3 linked regions of the Homo sapiens genome follow. The protein of the gene in region 3 purifies or fractionates together with the protein of the main gene of each other region. This does not show direct contact. Each region holds a gene or a part of one and is shown on either strand. Other genes may lie near its edges. The genes, in order: PECR, FKBP14 and POMGNT2.

What was found.
Region 1: the proteins of POMGNT2 (region 3) and PECR purify together in Homo sapiens (affinity purification with mass spectrometry; 2 studies listed by BioGRID and IntAct, with this or other methods). This does not show direct contact.
Region 2: the proteins of POMGNT2 (region 3) and FKBP14 purify together in Homo sapiens (affinity purification with mass spectrometry; 2 studies listed by BioGRID and IntAct, with this or other methods). This does not show direct contact.

What each region holds. Positions count from the first base shown.
Region 1 is NC_000002.12:216,078,229-216,086,143, reverse strand, and holds the start of PECR (peroxisomal trans-2-enoyl-CoA reductase), read left to right. Parts: upstream 1-4,334; 5' UTR 4,335-4,345; coding exon of another isoform or gene 4,346-4,402; coding exon 4,403-4,526; intron 4,527-7,915. UniProt on the Homo sapiens protein: Participates in chain elongation of fatty acids. Catalyzes the reduction of trans-2-enoyl-CoAs of varying chain lengths from 6:1 to 16:1, having maximum activity with 10:1 CoA. Has no 2,4-dienoyl-CoA reductase activity.
Region 2 is NC_000007.14:30,016,157-30,023,903, forward strand, and holds part of FKBP14 (peptidyl-prolyl cis-trans isomerase FKBP14 precursor), read right to left. Parts: intron 6,661-7,747; coding exon 6,509-6,660; intron 4,149-6,508; exon of another isoform or gene 4,057-4,148; intron 2,968-4,056; coding exon 2,840-2,967; intron 1-2,839. UniProt on the Homo sapiens protein: PPIase which accelerates the folding of proteins during protein synthesis. Has a preference for substrates containing 4-hydroxylproline modifications, including type III collagen. May also target type VI and type X collagens.
Region 3 is NC_000003.12:43,095,735-43,103,481, reverse strand, and holds part of POMGNT2 (protein O-linked-mannose beta-1,4-N-acetylglucosaminyltransferase 2), read left to right. Parts: intron 1-7,747. UniProt on the Homo sapiens protein: O-linked mannose beta-1,4-N-acetylglucosaminyltransferase that transfers UDP-N-acetyl-D-glucosamine to the 4-position of the mannose to generate N-acetyl-D-glucosamine-beta-1,4-O-D-mannosylprotein.

The sequences.
Region 1 (7,915 bases), on a different chromosome or scaffold from region 3:
GCAGTGAGCCAAGATCACACCACCGCACTCCAGCCGGGGCAACAGAGTGAGACTCTGCCTCAGAAAAAAAAAAAGATTCTTACAAATGTGATATTACAGAGTGTTAGCTTCAATCAACCATTAGCTCTGTACTCTTGGTCATTGTAGGAGGGAAAACAGGTTTTTAAGAACATGCTCATACTCTGGAACTCGTGCTTAGAATAACTGCTTTTAAGCCACTCTTGAAAAAAATTATCCAGATAATTCTTTTTTTGTTTTTGTTTTTTTTTTTTGAGATGGAGTTTCACTCTTGTTGCCTTGGCTGGAGTGCAATGGCGTGATCTCAGCTCACCACAACTTCTGCCTCCTGGGTTTAAGCGATTCTCCTGCCTCAGCCTTCTGAGAAGCTGGGATTACAGGCATGCACAACCATGCCCAGTTAATTTTGTATTTTTTAGTAGAGAAGGGGTTTCTCCATGTTGGTCAGGCTGGTCTCGAACTCCCAACCTCAGGTGATCCGCCCGCCTTGGCCTCCCAAAGTGCTGGGATTACAGGCGTGAGCCACTGCTCCCGGCCCAGATAATTCTTAAATTCATCCACCCAACTTTCCCATCTCCACTGCTTCCCCTCTGGTCTAGGAGGCCACTGTCTCTTAACTGTGGTTCTAAAAAAAATGCTCCTATCTTCCAGCTTCCACTCTTGCTGCCTTCCAATCAATTCCTCACTCAGCAGTAAGCAACATCTTTTACTTAATTTTTTTAATTTTTTGAGACAGAGTCTCACTCTGTCACCCAGGCTGGACTGCAGTGGCACAATCTCAGCTTCCTGCAACCCCCACCTCCCCCACCTGATTCTCCTACCGAGTAGATGAGATTACAGGCGTGTGCCACCACACCCGGCTAATTTTTGTATTTTTAGTAGAGATGGGGTTTCACCTCCCAAAGTGCTGGGATTCCAGGCATGAGCCACCCAGCCAGAAACATCTTTTTAAAACATAAAGAAAATCAGATGGTCAGGCGTGGCAGCGCGCACCTGTCGTCTCAGCTTCTCGGAAGGCTGAGGCAGGAGAATTGTTTGAACCTGGGAGGCAGAGGCTGCAGTGAGCCGAGATCGCTGCCACTGCACTCCAGCCTGGGATACAGAGCCAGACTCCATGTCAAATAAATAAATAAAAATAAAAAAGAAAATCAGGCTGTTTTCTGCTTAAAATCCTCCTGTAACTTCCTACTGTTATACATGTGGAAGTCCATGTGGCCTAAGGACCTCCCCATCCTGCCACCCCATCTGTACCACCATAGTAGGGGTACTATGCTCCAATCACACTGGCTGTGTATTTCTTCCTCAAGAGCACCAAATGCTTCCAAATGCTTGAGGTCTTCTTAACTGCTGTCTATCTTGCTGCTCTGCTGCTCCACCCCGCCTCTTCCTGTGCCCGTTTTTGTTTTTTTGAGTCCTTGTTCAAATGTTTCCTCCTCTGAGCCCTTCTTGACACCCGAACTAAAAACTTGACTCCCTGCTCTGCCTCTCATTATTCTTTATCACAACAGCTTGTTTCCTGTGTAAGGCTTACCAACATTTGTCATTATTTATTTTTCTTTTACTTATTTATTGCATAGCTCTTCTACTAGACTTCAAGCCCTATGAAGTGGTACCATAGAAGTAGGCCAACAAATAGATGCTCGATAAATCTTTTTAAGTGACTGGGTGAAGTGGTAGCAACTCAGGAGTAGCTTATTTTTTGTGAAAGCCTGAGACTAAGGAGAAGTTTAATAAAAAGACATCAATAAGCTCCTTTATATGCCTTGTTATGGCACAATTGCTAGGTAGTTTTGCTTCAAGGTAGGGGCAGGACCAGATGCTTCACTGACATTCTCTCAGCACTGAGATTCTGGGAGTCTAAATGTCGAGAATCCCACAAGCCCCTGTCAGTCTGAGCTAGCAGCTGCTTTGCAGAGGGGAGAAAATAAAGTTACCAGGCAGATGGGGTGGGGGAGGGGTGGGAAGCTGAAGGCAGTCATTGCTAATGGGGTATGACAGAGCTGTGGGGAGAGGTTCGGGGGTGTGGGAGGACCTTGGCCACAGGAATGCCTTTTTCCCCAGGACAAAGAGGGCAGTGACGCAGAGCACAGGGAAGAGCAGCATTTGATTCAACCAAAGGAGTGGTCAGTGCAGCATGGCGTGGTTGCCTTCGGAAGAGATGCCTCAACCAGAGGCAGAACTAAAATTTCAAAACAAAGAGCTTCCAAGCAGCAGATCTATTGCTCTGCTTCCAGGCCTTTTGGCCTGGAACTTAGCGGATTAGTGGACTTTCAAACCCTGACAGAGGTCAGAGGCAGAGGCAAAGAGATCATGCCTCCTAATTTTAAACAAAAGATCGCTTGAAGAGACCCCAAAGCTCTCTTAATTGCAGGTTCTGCCTGGATCATGAAAAATCGCCTTCTGACTGTTCATCCTGCAACTTCCTTGCAGCTGAGGAATGGCACCTTGTCATCCTCAGTAGGCATAACCGGTTTGCAGGCCCCAGTCCCTGTTTCACTGGAAGACATCAGAATCCCACTCTCAGTCCGCTCAGCAGCCACACGGAAGCTGCAGCACAGCCAGCTTCCCACTGACCCACCCTGGCACACCTCTAAGAATCTATAGGTCCAGACCAGGGCATAAATCATGTTAAGTTATATCTTCAATAAAGTTATCATTTAAAAGAATTTAAAGTGTCCCCACCCACAAGAAAGAAAGTCTGGACTTCTCTTGAATAAGATACCCCTCAGAACTGAATCAATATTTCTTTTCCTTAAAAAAAAACACCTTGTCATTGGGATCAAACCAAGAGGAGTTATATGTTTCTGCAACAACACTTTGAGCTTTCCTGTTTGAATTTACTTTGTTTTAAAGGAGGTGATGGCGTTGTAATTTTAAAAATTTGGTCCTAACTACAGAATTGACTTAAGTAGTAGAGTTAAGTGATTCCTGGATAAACTATCTAGCAAATGGTAACCAGGAGATTTATTCCTTTCTTTAACGAGTGTAGATTTGAATCTGTCAGCAACAAAGATAGAGGGAGAAGTGATTCTAAAAAGAGATCAGAGAAGGACAAGAGGATGGAGCAACAGGGAAGTGTAGCTGTCCAACAAGAACTGCAGCCTCGCTGGTGGGTGGGACCTGGTGGAGGAAGTGATGGTCTGATTCCTCTGTCAACCAGACCCATTTCCAATTGGCTTTGTGAATCCTAGGTGGTAGGTCCAACAAAAGGATGATGGCATTTATTTGCCTTTATATTATTTTAATACCTGTCCGGGGAAAATGCAACACTCTGACAACAGCCTTAGAAATAGCATCCCATCTGGATTGTTAAGACCACAGCAACTGGCACATTCGACCAAGTTCTTAGGGTGAAGTCTCAGTAGGCCAGTCCAGGTGTAATCTCACTCTGGTGGGTTCAGAGCGGGAAGCAAGATGAAAAATAAGGAGCAGATCTGAATAATAAATCACTGTTACTGGGCACCATAACACAGACGAGAAATTTTCCCCATCCTCAGCGGGCTCACCCTCCTGCACAAGGAATGAACTACAGGACATGATCTCAAACACCTACAGATGCATCTTGCAGGAAGCGTGCACCCTTCAAGGAAAGATCCTCTTCTGGACTCGCTATGCAGCTCAGCTGAAATGGATCAGGTCTCAAACCTGGTAAAGATGATCTTTCCCCTTGATTCTTGGGTGGGGAGTGGGAGGTGAGACGGAGGTGGGCCTGAGTTTATTTTTTCAAATCGTTTATTCTCTTGGTTCTGTGGAAAACTGCAACCGCATCTCCTCTTCCCCTTCACTCTCTTTCCCGGGCTCCCTCCCGAAGGATGAAAGGATCTGAAAGCCGCATTTCTCCCCCTCAGCTAAGCCTGCCCTTTCTCCCCTTCCCAGCCAGCGGCACACAGCACCTGGAGCCACAGCATCGCCGACGTCCGACCCCGGCAGGCGGGCGCAGCGAGGGCGCCGAGCAGCAGCCTTTCTTTTTCCAGCTGCACTGGAGATTTAATTTTAATTAATCGTGAGAGCTTCAGCCCTGAGGATTGAATTTTTGAAATAGAGCACACCCTGCTTGTTTCTTTCTTCTTCTTTTTTTTTTTTTGCATTTCCCTTCCACCCTCCCCAATGGCATCGAAATTTAAAGAAACGAACGAGCAGTCTCACCCACACCTGCCCAGGGACCGACGCTGGCGGAGGTTGCGGACAGCCGGCGGGGAGCGGTTCTGCTCCGGGAGGATGCGGCTTTGCCGCGGCCGGCGGGCGGGGCGGGGCCGGGCCGGGGAGGGTGCGGGGTTCTGGTGGTCACGTGGGCTCGAGCACCGCCCTGTCCGCCCGCCCGCCTCGAATGTCCCTGAGACCCAGAAGGGCCTGCGCTCAGCTGCTCTGGCACCCCGCTGCAGGGATGGCCTCCTGGGCTAAGGGCAGGAGCTACCTGGCGCCTGGTTTGCTGCAGGGCCAAGTGGCCATCGTCACCGGCGGGGCCACGGGCATCGGAAAAGCCATCGTGAAGGAGCTCCTGGAGCTGGGTACGTGAGCGGGCCGCTGGTGCAGAGAGGTGGCTGTGGTGACCTGGGGTAACCTGGAGACGGGAGCCAGGAGCTCTCGGCGGGGCTGAGGGAGTGTGGAGCTGCAGAGCAAAGACGGGGCAGGTGTGGGCGAAATTACGACCACCAGGGAGACAGAAGAGAGCAGCTCTTCCTAAGGAATTGTGGAGCCACTCGTTAAAAACTGAAGAGACCACTCAGGCCAAAGAGACTGTGCCCCAGGTAGGCAGTAAGAAGAGCAGTGAAACATGCTGTGCAATTAGTTTTATATTCAGATTTAAAATTAATCCATTCTATATGCTTAATGTGAGTGATTAGGAAACGTGGGAAGACTTCATTTAACTGGAAAAAGTTGTGAACATAGTGAGTCTCTCATAGTATCTTCTCACATCTCTTAACCACAGCAAGGAAATATGCTGAATATTTACCTTAACTTGGGTGAAGGAAGGCCTTTGTAAACACATAAGTGAGGGAATAAACCACAAAGGAGAACATAAATCAATCTACCTGTATGAAAGTGTAAATCCTCATTGAATTAAAAAAATATATAAAGTTTAAAGGCATATGAAGAAAAATATTTGCAACATAAGATAAATTGTTTGTTGGTTTTGAGATAGGGTCTCACTCTGTTGCCTACGCTGGTCTCGAACACCTGGGTTCAAGGGATCCTCCTGCCTTGCCTCTGAGTCCTAAAGTTTTGGGATTACAGGCTGAGCCACTAGATTCGGCCAACAGCCTTATACATAAAGAGCTCTTACAAATAAAGAAAAAATCCAACACACTGATAGAAAAATTAGACTAATGGTATGGACTAAGCGTTCCAAAAGAAGAACTACAGACAGGCAAGAAACATATGAAAAAATAATCAACTTTATTGGTAATAAAATATGAAACAGTAAGATTTAACTTTTCTAACAAAATTTTGAAATGTTGGGAAAAATTAAAGTGTTGATGCAGGAATGAGAAGGCAGGAATGTAAATTATTACAAACTTTCTGGAAGGCAATTTGGAAAAAAAGATCCAAAAACCTTCACAATGTTTATGCTCTATGACAGTAATTCCTTTTTCAGGAATTTAAGGAAACGGAGTCAAGCAAAGATTTTCATGCAAGGATGTAGTCTTGAGTAGTGAAAAAATGGAAATTACCTAAAAATCCAATATAAGGAAAATAGTTAAATCAATAACAATGAAATATAATGCTTCCGTTTAAATATCTTGCTATTGGTCCTGGCGCAGTGGCTCACGCCTGTAATTCCAGCACTTTGAGAGGCCGAGGCGGGCAGATAACCTGAGGTCAGGAGTTTGAGACCAGCCTGGCCAACATGGTGAAACTCCATTTCTACTAAAAATACAAACCAGGCATGGTGGCGTACACCTGTAGTCCCAGCTACTTGGGAGGTTGAGGCGCAAGAATCGCTTGAACCTGGGAGGCAGAGGTTGCAATGAGCTGACGTCAAGCCACTGCACTCCAGCCTGGGCAACAGAGCGAGATTCCATCTCAATAAATAAATAAATATCTTGCTATTGAAGACTTACTTGGAGAAATGCATACCATATTATTGGGAAAAGTAGAATTCTAAACCTAATAGCATTCCAATTTTACTTTTTTTTTTTTTTTGAGATGGAGTTTCGCTCTTGTTGCCCAGGCTGGAGTGCAGTGGCGCCATCTTGGCTCACTGCAACCTCCGCCTCCTGGGTTCAAGCGATTCTCCTGCCTCAGCCTCCCGAGTAGTTGGGATTACAGGCACGCACTACCTTGCTAGGCTAATTTTGTATTTTTAGTAGAGATGGGGTTTCTATATGTTGGTCAGGCTGGTCTCCAACTCCCGACCTCAGGTGATCCGCCCGCCTCGGCCTCCCAAAGTACTGGGATTACAGGCGTAAGCCACCGTGCCCGGCCCAATTTTACTTTTAATAAAATATATACATGCAGGGCCGGGCACGGTGGCTCATGCCTGTAATCCCAGCACTTTGGGAGGCCGAGGCGGGCAGAGCACAAGGTCAAGAGTTCGAGACTAGCCTGGGAAAACATGGTGAAACCTCGTCTCTACTAAGAATACAAAAATTAGCCAGGCATGGTGGCGTGTGCCTGTAATCCCAGCTACTCAGGAGGCTGAGGCAGGAGAATGGCGTGAACCCGGGAGGCAGAGGTTTCAGTGAGCCAAGATCGTGCCGCTGCACTCCAGCCTGGGCGACAGAGCAAGACTCAGTATCAAAAAAAAAAAAAAGTATTACATATGCAAAAATGGACTGGAAGGAAGTTTATAAGATTTTTAGCCATTTTTCTGAAAATAATGTTAATTATGAGTAATTAAAATTGTCTTCGTCTTTTAAATATTTTTTAATGAACATCTAAATTATCTTTGGTTACGACTGTGTTTCCAACATCTGGCACAGTATGAACTAAAAAAAAAAAATCTATGTTTTTAGTTAAAAAAAAAAAAAAAAGCAAAAACATTTCCTAGTAAGGCCATGATGTAACCTCATCACCATTACTGCCCAGTTTATTCTCAACACCAAGCTCTATCCTCTTTCAGGAATATCTGTAAGAAAATCAGAATCAGTTATCAATTCATGCATAGGTCAGATACTAGGCTTCTCAGCAGATTCGTAGGACCCTAGTCCACTTTGAAGGATTTTTAATAGATTTTTATGTATTTGAACTTTCATCCTGTTGCATAAGTGTGCTATTTGAACTTTCATCCTGTTGCATAAGTGTGCTATTTGAACTTTCATCCTGTTGCATAAATATGCATTGGCCAAAAACTACACCCCTGGAATAAGGTGATAGACTATATTTTTCTTACCACAAACTAAAACATTAGGACATTGGTCTTGTAATCTTTTGGAAGACATGAATCTGTCTGAGATTCTGATGAAAGTGGTGGCGTGTCTTTTGAGAAAAAGACATCATATACTTAAAAATATATATACACAATTATTTTGTTGTATTGGAAATGGATTTCCTTCAGTGAAAGAATATTAAAAATCTTTTTCTTTTTTTTTTTTTTTGAGATGGAGTTTCGCTCTGTCGCCCAGGCTGGAGTACAGTGGCGCAATCTCGGCTCACTGCAACCTCCACCTCCCAGGTTCAAGCAATTCTCTGCCTCAGCCTCCTGAGCAGTATTTTTAATAGAGACGGGGTTTTACCACGTTGGCCAGGCTGGTCTTGAACTCCTGACCTTATGATCCATCCCCCTTGACCTCCCAAAGTGCTGTGAGCCACCGGGCCTGGCCATAAAAATCATTTTTATAATTACTTTTTCCTCTTTATTTTTTTATGCCAGAATCAATGGCTATTTCCACGACATTGTCATATTTTTACTAGAGATGGGGTTTTGGCATGTTGGCCAGGCTGGTCTTGAACTCGG
Region 2 (7,747 bases), on a different chromosome or scaffold from region 3:
TCAGCCTCCCAAAGTGCTGGGATTAGAAGCATGAGCCACTGCACCCCATGGACACTTCTCTTAAAACTAGATTAAATAGTGGCATCTTTGACTTGAATAAATGTCTGCAAGTAGTGGGTCTTTTGGGTTTTGGTTATGATCATGTGATTAGATTGAGTCTAATCACAACCTTTCAATCTCAGAAAGTCAGGTCTGATAAGTGCCTAGACTACAATTTTCCATTTTCATTTGTTTTTTTGTTTTTCTTTTTTTTTTGAAATAGAGTCTTGCTCTGTCACGCAGGCTGGAGTATAGTGGCACGATCTCGGCCCACTACAACTTCCAACTCCCAGGTTCAAGCGATTCACCTGCCTCAGACTCCCTAGTAGCTGGGATTACAGGCACCTGCCACCATGCCTGGCTAATTTTTGTATTTTTAGTAGAGACAGGGTTTCACCAAGTTGGCCAGGCTGGCCTCGAACTCCTGACCTCAGAAGATTTGCCTGCCTTGGCCTCCCAAAGTGCTGGGATTACAGGTGTGAGCCACCATGCCCGGACTCCATTTTCATTTCATTCAGATATTTAAAAATATAAATATTGTTTTCAATTTCCCACAAGATTCACCACAATGAAAATCAGCCTATATTTTCAGTTTTAATTATATCACCTCTCTTCCTTCTGTTTAGACCAGCAATTTCAAATCCTCTCTCCCCCAGCTTTCAAGAAGTACACATATAGTATATATTTATTTTTAAGTTAAAGTGATTTAATGCAGTTGTTAAAAAAAGGGGTGGGGGAGAGATCCATTAATCCATTAAACTCTATGGATTAATGTAGAATGTATTTCTAGGATATATTGTGTGAATAAAGCAAAACGACAAAACAGCATGTATAGTTTGCTTCTTTTTGTGTAAGAAAGGGGGAAATAAGACTATGTATTTGGATTTGCAGAAAGAAACACTGAAAGGATATATTAGAAACTAATAAAACTAAGCCGGGTGCAATGGTGCATGCTTGTACATAGCGAGACCTCATCTCTACAAAAAAAAAAACAGAAAGAAAGAAAAAAGTAATTAATAAAACTGGATGTGGGGATAATAGAATAGAAGAGGATGTAGGTAGGAGAAAGACTTTTAAAAATATGTAAATAATAGGCCGGATGCGGTAGCTCACACCTGTAATCCCAGCACTTTGGGAGGCCAAGGCAGGCGGATCACAAAGTCAGGAGCTTGAAACCATCCTGGCCAACATGGTGAAACCCTGTCTCTATTAAAAATACGACAATTAGCTGGGTATGGTGGCGTGCACCTGTAGTCCCAGCTACCTGGCAGGCCGAGGCAGGAGAATCGCTTGAACCCGGGACACAGAGGCTGCAGTGAGCTGAGATCGCACCACTGCAATCCAGCCTGGCAACAGAGTGAGATTCCGTCTAAAAAAAAAAAAAACAGTAAATAATAGAGATAAAGTCTTCCTATGTTGGCCAGGTTGGTCTTGAAGTCTCAGCCTCAAGCAATCTTCCTGCCTCAGCCTTCCAAAGTGGTAGGATTACAAGTGTGAGCCACCTCACCCAGCTAAGACTTTTAAATAAATATCTTTCTGCTGGGCACAGTGGTTCACGTCTGTAATCCCAGCACTTTGGAAGGCCGAGGTGGGCAGATCACGAGGTCAGGAGTTTGAGACCAGCCTGGCCAATATGGTGAAACCCCATCTCTACTAAAAATACAAAAATCAGCCAGGCATGATGGTGCAGCTACTTGGGAGGCTGAGGCAGAATTGCTTGAACCCAGGAGGCAGAGGTTGCAGTGAGCCGAGATTTTGCCACTGCACTCCAGGCTGGGCAACAGAGCAAGACTCCCTCTCAGGAAATAAATAAATAAATAAATAAATAAATAAATAAATAAATAAATAAATAGATTTTTGTTTTGAACCATGTGACTGTGTTATATATTCAAAATTATTTAATGAAAGGGAATTAAAATTTATCTTGGATGGAAGAAAAAGGCATGTGACTGGTAATACTATGAGGTGTTATAAATTTAGTGGCTGTGGATCATGAACCCCTGGTTCGTAACAATTTGGCTTATTCAAGACTTAATCATTTCCTGGCCATTAGAATGAATTTGATCAAAGCATAGAAAGGGACTTGATATCTGACCAGTCAGGACAGAATGGAGTGTGAGTAGATAAAAAACAGGAATAAATATCTCCCTCCACTTCTTTCCCCGCAGCAGCCAGACTAAGACAGGTATGTGTAGCAATGGCCGAATTATAAGGAGAAGCCTCTTCTTCCTTTCTCTTTACCCAAAGGCTCAGATTTTGATGGGGCTGGAGCCCTGCTGTGTAAAACCCAGGCTGGGGTCTCTTTTCTCTGGGGCAACCTGAACAAAACAGAGCATGTAAGTTGCTTGCTGTTAATTGCCAGGAAAACACTACAAGATGTATTTAACAGCCAGTCTACAGTTTTAACAGAAACTGTCCACATGAGATATTTCTCAGGACAGCTAGCTTCTTATACAGTAACTCCAGATGGAAACTGTCTTGGCAAAATTGTTCTTTCAAAGACCCAAGGGTAAGCATAAGATACAGTGAACCCTAAGCATTGGGAAGAAAAAAGCAAAAGATTGAATGGTGCTTTTTAAGTCTTAATATATTTCTCTCCAAAACAGTGATTCACTATGAAAAAGTCCACTTTCAAAGCATCAGTATTTTAAGAAAACTTATAAATAAATGTTACCTAAATAAAAGTAGATTTGAAATATACACATATTCATTTAAAAAGTGAGTTACAAAAACAAAACAAAACAAAACCCCAAACAACCAAAGAAAAGTAGAAAGAGGAGTAGGAAGAAGGAAAGGTCACCTCATCTTTAGAGAGTTTCCAGTCATCATTAAGATCCATTTCTTGGAATGATTCATGGGATCTTGGTCCATTTCGAATCTCCAGGAGATCAATATTAAATATCAGTGTACTTTCTGGGGGAATTTTACCTGACGTGAGGAAAGAAGGCAGAAAGTTTTAAAAGAGCCAAAAGTTTTAATAATAGAAAATTTATGGTAATGGACAAAGTATTTTTTTTAACTGAATTAAAGAGCCTTCCTAAGATTGTCATATATGATGAAAATTATGTATATTATATTTTACTCGAATAGAATAGAGTAAAAGAAGAAATAATATACACTAGCAGAGCAAAAGCATTCTATCTTTGGCTTAGCAATTAAAATGTAAATACACATACACACAATGCATATACATACATAGAGATGTACCTAATGGCTTAGGTATTACATTTCTAATATAATTAATATATTACATATTATATGTCAAGAAGGACTTGAAGGGTTTTAGATAATTCGGAGTTAAGTATATTAAAAGTAATAAACTAACTTTTTGGTCAGAAAGTCCTGACCTAGAAATACATACAGTATTGCCATTTCTACCACTAGAAGGCATTTCTACCCATATAATTGAGTAAGCTCTGGTGTCACACTGTCTGAGGCTGAAGTTTACATTTGCCCATCTCTAAGCCTCAATTTCCTCATCTATAAAATGCAGATAATAAATTTCCTCCTCAGGAGTCTGTTGGGAGGATAAAGGGAGAAAAATCCATGCAAAATACTTAGCATTAAACTTGACAAATAGTAAACTCTCAATACATGTTATTGAGGTATAATTTTCTCACAGGCTTTAAAAATAATGCAGGAAGGTTTAACAATTTCAGAAAGTTAGGAAACACTACCTCTGATATAGAACATTATATATATGTTGAAGACATTTCATGGGAGGGGAGAAATTAAAATGAATTTCTGAGAAGGGAAATTAAAAATCTTTAAAAGTGAAAAGAGCTTTGTTAAAATCCCAGGAACCTGAAACAAACAAACAAACAAACAAACACACCCATCTGTGGAGTATGGACAATTGTTTTTCTCAAACTTGTTTCCTTATAACTATATTTAACATACAGGTCTGTGTAAACATGTTAAATATTTCTTAGTCATCCTCCCCCCATCCCACATATTTCCATGAAAGAACATTCATAAATTCCAAAGAGAAGACTTATAAAGTGTGCTGAAGCTTACCATTTCAGATCTAGACAGAGATGTGACATGCGCTAGGTTGTTGATAAAACTGGTATCTTTCCAAAAGAGGCATGCAAGCATGTACTAAAAGACTACAAAATTAGTGTTAAATACAGATTAGAAAAATTAGTTTCATGGCATTCAGTTTGAAGGAAATGACTCAAATTTAGATCTCTACTTATTGTGAAGTAAACTTGAGTTAAATATAGTATGAGAAAGAGTAATGGACTAATACAACGTACAGTAGTCCCCACTGGGATATGTCCCAAGAATCCCATTAGATGCCTGAAACCATGGATAGTACCAAACCCCATACATACAATGCTTTTTCCTATACATGCATATCTGTGATAAAGTTTAATTTATAAAATAGTCATAGTAACAGATTAAAAATAATAAAATAGAACAATTACAACAACATATCATAATAAAAGTTATATGAATGCAATCTGTCTCTCATTCTCAAAATACCTTAATATTTTCAGACTGCAGTTGACCACAGGTAACTAAAACGGTAGAAAGTGAAACCACAGGTAAAGGGGAACTACTGTATGTAAATATTAAAGGTGAGACAATAAAGATAAAATGAAAACATTCTCAGCATCAGAAAAAATTTTCTAGATACTTGGTTTTCTTCTCTAAAGAGGATTATGACTAAAAGAAGAATTGAATTTGGTTAGTTAATCTTATCCTATGAACAAGATTTGTATAGATTTGTATATTTTGGAATATATAATGCTTGCCATATGGCATCTATTTTCCTTCTCAGGAAATGGGCTGTGAATCCTGACTCCTCACTTTTGTCAGTGGTTAACCTTAGACTTCAGGATGCTATGAAGTCTATATTTATACTATATCAGAGTAGTTGTCTGTCTGGTTCTGATGACTACTTAAACTTTTTTTTCTTCATTATGTAAGTAATACATGCTCATTGTAGAGCACATACTTGGATGATAAAACCAGAAATAAATATGATTCCCAGTATCACAGTCCATTTTTAACATTCTTATTTATTTCCTTATGATTAACTTTCTATGTATATGTACCTTTTCCTATATTTACTATCATATATACTATAGGTTTATTTTCTACTTTTATATATAATACTGTATCTCATGCATTTCAGATATAATTTTTAAACTCTTTGGAAATGCCATTTTAAATAACTGGGCCATATTTTATTTAGCTAAATTCTTACCAGTATACCACTTACGACAGTTCCAATTTTTTGCTTAGAAACAATGCAATTATGGACATCCCTGTTCACAAATTTTTTTCCTGATATCTAATTATTCCCTTAGGTTTGAAGGAATTATAGAATAAATGCATATAGACATCTTCAGACCTCTTTTTTTTTTTTTGAGATGGAGTTTGGCTCTGTCCCCCAGGCTGGAGTATAGTGGCACGTTCTTGGCTCATTGCAACCTCTGCCTCACATGTTCAAGCAATTCTCCTGCCTCAGCCTCCTAAGTAACTGGGATTATAGGTGCACTCCACTACGTTCAGCTAATTTTGTATTTTTAGTAGAGACAGGGTTTCACCATGTTGGCCACGTCGGTCTCAAACTCCTGACCTCAAGTGATCCACCCTCCTTGGCCTCCCAAAGTGCTGGGATTACAGGTGTGAGCCACCATGCCTGGCCCAGACCTCTTGATATATATCACAAAGCAGCTCTTTGGAAAGTTGCAGGGGTTCTCACTTGAACAGCAGGATATGTGTCTGCCCTGAAAAACTAGTACAAAAGCTGTCCGGACCAGCTAGCCAGCTTGCTTCTGCTTTGTGACACAGGGAGAATTAAATTCATTTCATGTCACTCTATGATTTTTTTTAAATACATTGTTAAAAACTTTATAAATAAATTTAAAAACGGGAATGAAAAGAACTCCCAGTTTGCTGTGGGAGACTTAATATTCATGAAGTACAACCCATATATAACCCACATCTAAAATGCATTCAATACTTTAATAATCTATATTTCACATGTTCAACTCATCCAAACACTTACGTTAATGGATCTTTCTCTCTGCATTGTTAAAGTAAATTGGTGAGTTTCAGTTTGGGAAGATGAGAACATTCTGAAGATGGATAGTGGTGATGGTTCCACAATAACATGAATGTATTTAATGCCACTGAACTGTGTACTTAAAAATGGTTCAAATGAAAAATTTTATGTATATTTTATCACAATTAAAACAACCCACCATATTTGTGAACAGTATTAATAGACCTCAATGTTCTTTTTTTATTGTTAGCATAGTTGCCCATTTAGACATTACGGCCTTAAACTGGCCATTTCAATTGATACTCAAGACATAATACAGTTGCTAAAGGAATACATACCCCCTATTAACTTCCAGGGGAAAAAAAAAAGTTATAGTGACTCTAACTTCTGTCTCCTAATCCAGAGAACAACTCTAGTGCTATAGTAAGAAAAATACAGAAATACTATTACCTTTTCCTTCTTTTCCATAGCCCAGAGCAGGAGGAATGATGAGCTTTCTCTTCTCTCCTACACACATTCCTTTCAAGCCCTGGTCCCAACCTTTGAGAGCCTCCAGGATGCCCAGGGTAAACCAAATGGGCTGACCATTGTTATGTTTGTGACTATGATAGAAATAAAACACATTAGAACTCCTTATTAACTCTAAAAAATTTTCTTTAGTGCATTTTCCCACCAGTAAGTGGTTAAGTTTATTAGTTTAAAAATTTATAAATACAGCAATTCTGTATTTGCACACATACACACACACCTCCAAGTCAAGTTTATAGGAATTCAATTCACTGCCCATCTTTCTTGATGCAAATTTCACATACTTGACTGGGCTTAAGAAAGACAGAGGAAATAATAAAAACAACAACCATTTGAACATTTGTTGTATACCAGGAATTATTCTAAATTTTATTTTATTTTTTGCCTCTTAACCCTTACAATAAGTCTATAATATAAGTACCATTACTACCCCATTGCACAGATGAGGAAACACAGGTTAAGTTCCAGTCTTTAAACCTAACTCCAAAGTTCAAGGTCTTAATCACAAAGTTATGTTGTCCCAGGAAGGCCACTAGGTTGCAGAACAAGGAGAAAATAATGGAAAAATGGCTGAGTTTGGGAAGGAGATTGAAAGGCTAAGGAGAATTTACTGCCAACATATGTGGGTCCATATGCACACAGATATGAAGAGTGAGAAGCACAGTGTCTTATATCCTGCCTACAAACTTGCCTTAGCTATGGCCTGCTGATGGCTCTGACGGGTAGAAAAGGCTGCTTTTCATCCCTAAATCCCCACTCAGACCCTAGCCCAGTTTCCTCCTCAGGGGTCTACAGTGGGGCTATATAGGAAAGTCTGGAAGAGTAGCCCCTCAAGGACTGGTGTGTTAGTCCATTTTCATACTGCTATGAAGAAATATTCAAGACTGGGTAACTTATAAAGAAAAGGAGGTTTAATGGACTCGCGGTTCCACATGGCTGGGGAGGTCTCACAATCATGGCGGAAGGCAAAGGAGGAGCAAAGGCACGTCTTACATGGTAGCAGGCAAGAATGAGTGTGCAGAGGAGCTGCCTTTTATAAAACCATCAGATCTCGTGAGACTTATTTACTATCACAAGGAGAACAGCATGGGAAAAACCTGCCCTCATGATTCGATTACCTCCCACCAGGTCCCTTCCACAACATGTGGGGATTATGGTAGC
Region 3 (7,747 bases):
TAGGGTCTCATCACTGGACAGCAGGGCTGGGTGAGGGGGCAGTGCTGGGTGAGGGTGCAGGCTGGGTGGGATCTGGGAAGCTTGTGTATGAGAAGAAATGCCTTCGTTTAGCTCCTGGGAAATGTTCTGGGGCTGCATAATTCTCTGAGCCTTATCTTTGCTTTGTGAGGGAGAGCAGCCCTTGAGCTGTGGATAAGGGAGGAGAAGGAGCCCTGGACTGAGAGCCAACATTCTGCCATTTTAATCCTGGCTGCCTGTGAGAGCTCACACTGCCTCTCCAGACCTCTTTTATGAAATAAAGAGTTGGAGGAAATCATTTCTAAGGGTTCTTGTAGCTCTAAAGGGCAGTGGTTTTGTAATTCTAAATTGATGGCCTAACCCTCTCAGCACAGTACCAGGGCACATGGGATAAATTATCACACTAGTATGTTACTTAGACTCTCCTTAGGGTGAGAGAATGGCCACAGCTCCCTAAGCCACCTGTCACAGCTGGGTACCCTCTGCCTGGCTGGGTGGGGAGGAATTACAGCAAGAAGCCTTGGGTTGCTAAGTTACAGTCCAGGGCCTGTGGTTCTACATTTCCAGGGCCACCACACCTGCTCTGCCCTTGACTAATAAAAACTCACTGCTCTACAGTCTACTCTGCTTATCTGCCATTGAGTGTTCCTCCAAGTCTGATGACAGATGAGCACGGTACTAAGAACAAGACCTTAGTGAGAGGCAGGTTCAAATCCTGGTGGCCCTTCTTGAGCTTTAAGACCTTAAGCAAGGTACTTAACTCCACTAAAACTTGGTTTTCTCATGTTAAAAGAAAATGGGGATAATATTGGTACTGCATTGGAGGGTGAGGCTTAAATGAAATAGGTCAGGAAAAAGGCTTAAGACAGCGCCTCTCGCATAGTAGGTGCTCAGTAAAGTAAGATGGTGAGACCATTCATCTTTATCCCCTACCCAGAGGCCAACATCCTTTTTTTCTTAGTTAACCTGGACAAGTCCTTTTGTTTTCTCTGGCTTCCCATGTCTGCACTGGTACATACTCCAGCACCTCTAAGAGAATCAGATCTTTCACTCTGCCAGTGGTGACTGCCATTGGTACAAGCTTATGCTACAAATTTATCTGTTTTCTCCATTCTGAAAAGGCTAAGAGAAGGCCCCTTCTTTGCTGTGTAGTTGCTCCTCAGCCCTGAGCTAAGCCTTAGGAAGGGACTGGGGACCTGGTCTGCTGTATTGCCACACCCAGTGATGAAACACACCCCGGGGTCCTTTGACAGTGGAGGTTTGTGGCAGGAATCATGGCACATCCTGGAGTGGCATCTGGAGTTGCCACAGTTGTGCTGGGTCCCAGAGCTTCCAAGAGAGTCACACAGTAGCCATTGTAAGGAACTGGAGATGCTGTCCAAATTTGCTCTGTTCAGGGGCTTCTTTCTCGGGGGACCTACCTCCTCTCTGCTGGCCTGCAGGGATGGCCATCTCCCTATGTCCTCTACTGGTGGCTGCTTTAGACCCAGACTCCATCCTTAGTCCATTTAGCTGTGGCCAAGAGACCTGGACTCGTTTCTTGCCACTCCCACACCACAAATGGTGCACTTTGTGTGGGAAGGAATGGGTTGGGGCAACTTGTCTCAAAAGGGAGCTTAGAGTCTGGCGGACTTCTCAGATTGTCCCAGAGCTTAGGCTTATGCATCATCTTAGCAAAAGGTAGGAACAGAATTTATTTAGCCTTTACTGATACTTATGGGGAGGGTTATTCTCAATTGAATTAGTTGTTTAACCTGGGCTAGATAGAAATGCCTTGCTGAGTATCGCAAAATTGTGAAATGTTAGAAGAACCTCAGAGCAGTTCCCCTCAGTATTGTGCACACGCAAGAATCACCTGGAAGCTTTATTAAGACACAAGTTCCTGGGTCCTCATCTCAGAGAGATTCTGGTTCTGCAGGTCTGAAGTGGGGCCCAGGATTCTGCATTTCTCAGATCCCAGGTGATACTGCTACAACAGGTCCACGGATCCACTGAGTCCTGCTTTGGAAGACACCATGGCCAGCCCTATCCCCGCTGTGGAGTAGTCCACATGGGTTGTTTTTGTTTTTTGCTAGACCACTTCCAGGCAGGGGCTCACTGCCCTACAAAGTAGCTGATTCCTCCATGCTCAAACAGCTCTAGTCTTTAGGAAAGTCTTCCTCCAACTGACCATGCTGAGCTCCACCTCCCCATGACTTCTTTTTGCAGTTCTTACTCTAGGTCCCTGAGCAGCTGGCACAGCTGTGCTGGGCAGGACAGAATGGGAATCATATGTGCCCATAGTCCACACTTGTGCCTAGGGCTTGGGTTGCACGTGTCACCATCATGCATGTGTGTCCAGTCAGGTAGAAGGGGTTGCATCCACTCCTCAGGAGCAGCCTCACTCTTGTGCAGCAACTCAGGTATTTGAAGACACCATGGGTGCAGGGGCTTCTTTTCTCCAGTAAAGTGGCCCTACTCCTTCTAGCATCCTACACAGTATAGGGGTTCTCAGTCCTTCCTCATCCTGGCTGCCCCAAGGTGAGTGTCCCAGAAAGACTCACATAGGGTGGGGTTGTATTAATGACTAATTGTACAGACTCTAATTCCTCACGAAAATGCATAACCTGAACCTAATCATGAGAAAACATCAGACATTGAGGAATATACTAGAAAATAGCTGGCCCTGACTCTTAAAAATTGTCAAGATCATAAGTTGAAGATAGACTGAGAAGCTACCCCAGATCGGAAGGGACTAGAGAGCGGTGATAACTGGATACCATGCTTCATCCTGGACTGGATTCTGGACCAGAAAATAGAAACCATATGTTAATAATAATATCATTGTCATTATAGTATCAATATTCATTTCGTTAATTTTTGTGGTGTGAGAGAATGTTTTCATTCTTAGAAAATACATGCTAAAGTATTGAGTGCTAAAGGGGCCTGATTTCTTCAACTTATTTACAAATGATTCAGAAAAGAGAGAGAATTTGTATACAGTTGCCCTCCTCAGGGAGACTTGTTCCGGGATCCCCCACAGATACCAGAATCCAAGGATGCTCAAGTGCCTGTTATAAAATGGTGTCATTATTTGCATATAACCTACACAATCCTCCTGTATACTTTAAGTCATCTCTAAATTCTTTATAATACCTAATACAATGTAAATGCTATGTAAATAGTTGTTATACTATATTGTTTTTAAATTGATACTTTTTTTGTATTTTTAAGTTTTTTTTGAATATTTTTGATCCACAGTTGGTTGAAGTCACATATGCAGAACCTGCAGATATAGAGGGCTGACTGCATATAGAGAGAATGATTAAACAAAGATGTCAAATTAGCAGTTGGTGAATCTGGGTAAGAGTGTAGGAGAGTTCTTTGTCCTATACATGCAACTTTTTTTGTAAATTTAAAATTATTTCCAGATAAAAAGAAGGAGATCGCAGACCCTGTAGCCAGCCTACCTGGGTTAGTCTTATCATTGCTTCCTCTGTAAACTTGGCTTTCTAACCTTTCTGAGCTTTGATTTTTACCATCTATAAAATAAAGATTATCATTGCAAAGTGAAGAATCTGGCACCTAGTGATTGGCCAGTAGATCTTAGCTATGATAATATCATTATTATTAGGAAAGGGAGGAGTTGAGGGTGACATGGTGGTAATGAGACCAAAGGAAAACTCAGCCTAATTCTGTCACCTCCTTCTGCTTGCTGATGTGGGATCTCAGGGTCCCTGGGTATCTGGCAGGGACCTGGCTGCCATAAAGCGTCACCCTGCAGAAGGCTTTGCAAGTAGTCACCTGAGCCCATAGGGCTCTACTGTTGAAACCCAGGTCTCCTGGCAGCTTTATCTCCTGCCTTCCCTGGCACTTCTGTGCCTGCCCCACAGCCTGGGCTCCCCGACCTTTACCTGTCTGGGTATGCAGTGCCCACTGAACTGCACATGGCTTTGGGCCTGGCCATCACTGCCCATGGCTTGGAGGCCTCATGGTTTGCTGGACATTTGTGAGAACTAGACAGTGATGCTTGCTGCAGACAGATTTGTAGCAGTCATGAGTAATTGGGACATGTAGACACATAACAGAGATGCTCATCTTATCCTCCATCACCACCAAAACACCTCCAAAAACTTGCTCAAAACTCACCCACCCTCCAGCCAGCTTCCCTGGATGATCTCTTGTTGTGCACACTTCCTCGTGTTTCTTTGTGAATGTTTTATGCTTCCTATACTGGGTGTTTTTGGCTCTCTTGATCAGTTCAACCCTCTCAAATTGGGCCTGAGGGTCCATCTGGATTTGTGTACACACTGGGGTCTGAGCATTCCCTGTAAGAATTGTTTTCATTTGATTTTGTAGTTCCACCTAGAAAACCTGGTGTAGGCGTGTTCTCCATTACCTTTGTGAGCCACACAACAGAGGTTCCCACCGTTCTGTTCCCTGTTTCATCCCCGTTTATGACCACACTGGTACACAGTGATGCCAGAGAGGACCAATACAGGCACATGTCACTTCCAGGTGACCCATTTGTGCTAAGCAAAAGCCAGATGACACGGCAGGCTGTGTGGCAAGCAAAGGTTTCTGCGTTATTTGGAGGCTGAAAACCGGTGAGAGGGTTGCATATGAGCTGGTGGAAGGCCGAACGTCCTGCCCCACACTCAAGCCTTGGTTTATCCTCAGCAAAGACTGACATCACCCTTCTCACCAAAGTAGTACAGACTTGAATTCTGTTGGAGTTTTTCCTGCTTTGAAGGGGTTCCTTTTCTATTGATAAGGCAATATAGTCACAGTCATCAGCTATTGATGGTGGATTAATGTCTCCAGCTTTGACTTTGCTTTGCTCTTTATTCTAAAGCAAGAAGATACTACCCATGTCAAAGTTTTAATCTAAGAAAGTGAGCCCTTAACTAAATGTTAAATATGCCTTGATAATTAAATGTGTTAAGTTTTACAAGAACCACTCAGACTGCCAAGATTTTGCCAAAGGATAAATACCTTGGTCAGAAAACCTGATCTATAAATGCCGAATTTATCAATAGCATTAGGTTAATATTTAATTTAGGAGCAAATGTAAGCATTATGTTATTAATACCAGTTCCATATACTACTTCAGATAACCAAAAAAAAAGGAGGGGGAAAGAGATCATTCTGAGGATAAGCTTGAGTTAGTGAAACATGTTTACTCCTTACTAATTTACAACATGTAAGACAACAAATCAATACAGGACTGAAAGCTTCCACAATCTAGCACTAGTACTTCAGGCTGCATTTAGGACAAAAACACTTTTCAGTGACAAAATAAGATTTCTATAATTTTCAATTGGAAGTGTGAACAATCCTTAAAAGTCAAATTGCTGTGAAAGTAAAATATAAAACCTTCTGCACCGTTGCTGACCCCCTCCTGGCCTGGGCCCTGCCTGATCTTCTGCAGCCTGGGTCTGGCAGGTGCTGGCTGTCTGGTCCCTCCACCTCTGTAACCCTTCTTGTGGAGGAGTGACCGGTGAGCTGCTGGTTCTGGCAGTCACAAAACTGGGAACCCGGGCACAGGCCATGGTGAGGCCAGCAGGACAGGGGATTTGCTTTAGACCAGAGCTTGCAAATGAGCATCCGTTTTTAACTGGCAACCATGAGGCCAGCAGCCCCAGGCCTTGGTGCACGTTGTCTTCACTCAATTTGAATAATTGCCAGAAGTTACAAATGAGGACATTTCACATTTTAAATAGATTTTTGCTTCTCTGGGAAAATCAGAAGAGTATTGCTATGGACTGAATCATGTTCCCCCCATTTATATGTTGAAGATCTAACCCCCCTGTGATTGTGTTTAGAGATAGATCATCCTAATAATGAAGCTTAAATGAGGTCATAAGGGTGGGGCCCTAATCTGATAGGACTGGTGTCCTTATAAGAAGAGGAAAAGAGATCAGAGTGTTTCTCTCTCTCCCCACCTCCCTCTCCCGGCTTCCTTTCTCCCTCCCTTTCCCCCTTGCTCACCTGCCCCTCTCCTCCCTCCCCACCACACAGAGAAGAGGCCATCTACAAGCCAGGAAGAGAAGCCTCACCAGAAACCAACCCTGACAGATCTGTGAGAAAATTCTGTCATTTAAGGCACTCAGTCTGGTATTCTGTTATGGGAGCCCAAGCAGACTGATACAGATAGGTACCACCAGGCTGCTTTCCCGCCATTCTCTCATCAGCTGGCATTAGGTGTTCTGTCTCCAGGTCACACAGCCCACCCTCAGCTTTACTTTCTCCATTGGCTCCGGCCCTAGCAGGCATGTGAGTGTGCACCTCCTACTCTGGGCCCAGAATTCCTGGAGCTTTTACTCCTTATCAAACCTTAAAGCCCTTATGGGCTTTTCTGTGCCCGTGTCTGGGGCTGGCCAGGGCCCCCAGAAGTACAGCCTGCACCCAGCACCAATGACCACCCTCACGTGGTGAGCTCCCCAAGGCAAGTGGCCCCACCCCACCTGCCCAGCTGTTACTGGGGTCTGCAGTTGCAACAGCATTTTTGACATTATCCTCTGATGCTCGGAACAGCTGGGATCCTAGAAAGGAGGATTCACTAAGTCTGGGGATCTGATAACATTTAACTGCTCTTGGGAGCTTAGTAAAGTGGTTTGGGGGAGTGAATTGGTAGCTTCCTCCTGTCTGCCTCAGTTTCTAAAGGGATTTTCTAGGCATGTTTTTAATCTCTTGTTGATTTCTTTTTTCTCTTTCTTTTGAAAAAATTTTTGTTTTATCATGCTTTGTCCTGGCTGAGCCACTAAGCCCTTTGTTCCCCACTCCAGTTGGTCTCTAAATTTGGTGCCCAATATAGAGGAGGCAGAGGCAGATAAACATGGTGGTGTTGAAGTACCCTGGTCTGTGTGGCCCTGGAATGCCAAGAAGGTGAGGTCCAAATGGTGCCTGGGCTATTAACATAAGACAGTGCTTAGAATCCATGTTCAGATCCTGCCTCCATTCTGTACATGCTGAGGGACTTGGACACATTTACTTAGCTTCTCCCAGCCTCTGTGTCCCAATCTATAAAATGGAGTAATAGAAATAGTGTTAGCCTCTTAATGTTGGTTTGAAGATTGAATGAGAAAATATACCTACAGTGTTCAGTATACTGCCTGGAACATAAAGTGTTAGAGGCTGGTGATTTTGAGTGTGTTTTTCAAGGTAAGAGTGGGTTCATATTTAATAGTTGTTGGTAATCTGGGAATCAGTTTCAGGTGCCGATTGGATCCTTGGTAGCAGGATGGGATGGGAGGTACAGCACGGGAATCAGCTGCTGGTCCCAGAGCAGTGGAGGGGCCAAAACTCCGCTTAGGGCACGAGTAAGAGGAGTGATAGGAAGAGGCAGCTTTTCCTAGTTTGATTACCTCCGCTTTTCTAAAGGAAAGCAAACAAATAAGGATCAAGGTTGTTGGGTCCCCTTTGAATCCCTTTTGTCTCCTTCAAGAGTTTCACCACTGAGCACTGTGATCACATCCACCCAGCATTCACTCATCTTCCCTTCTCCCTGCCCCATAGCCTGATGACTTTCAGCTGGTCAGCCAGTGGCATTCTCTGGTCATTGTCATGGGTCCAGGAGGGGACTGGGCTGCAAAGTAGGGTGGGATGTGCGTGCCCTTATTTGGGCTCGCTCCTCCCTGATTGAGTTCTCTGAATGTCTGAGGTGTTTCTTTCTCTTCTCTGCCCCTTGCCCCACTTTAATGAAGACTGGATCTTCTGTATCTTGAGGGTGGTTTTCAACACAGTCTTT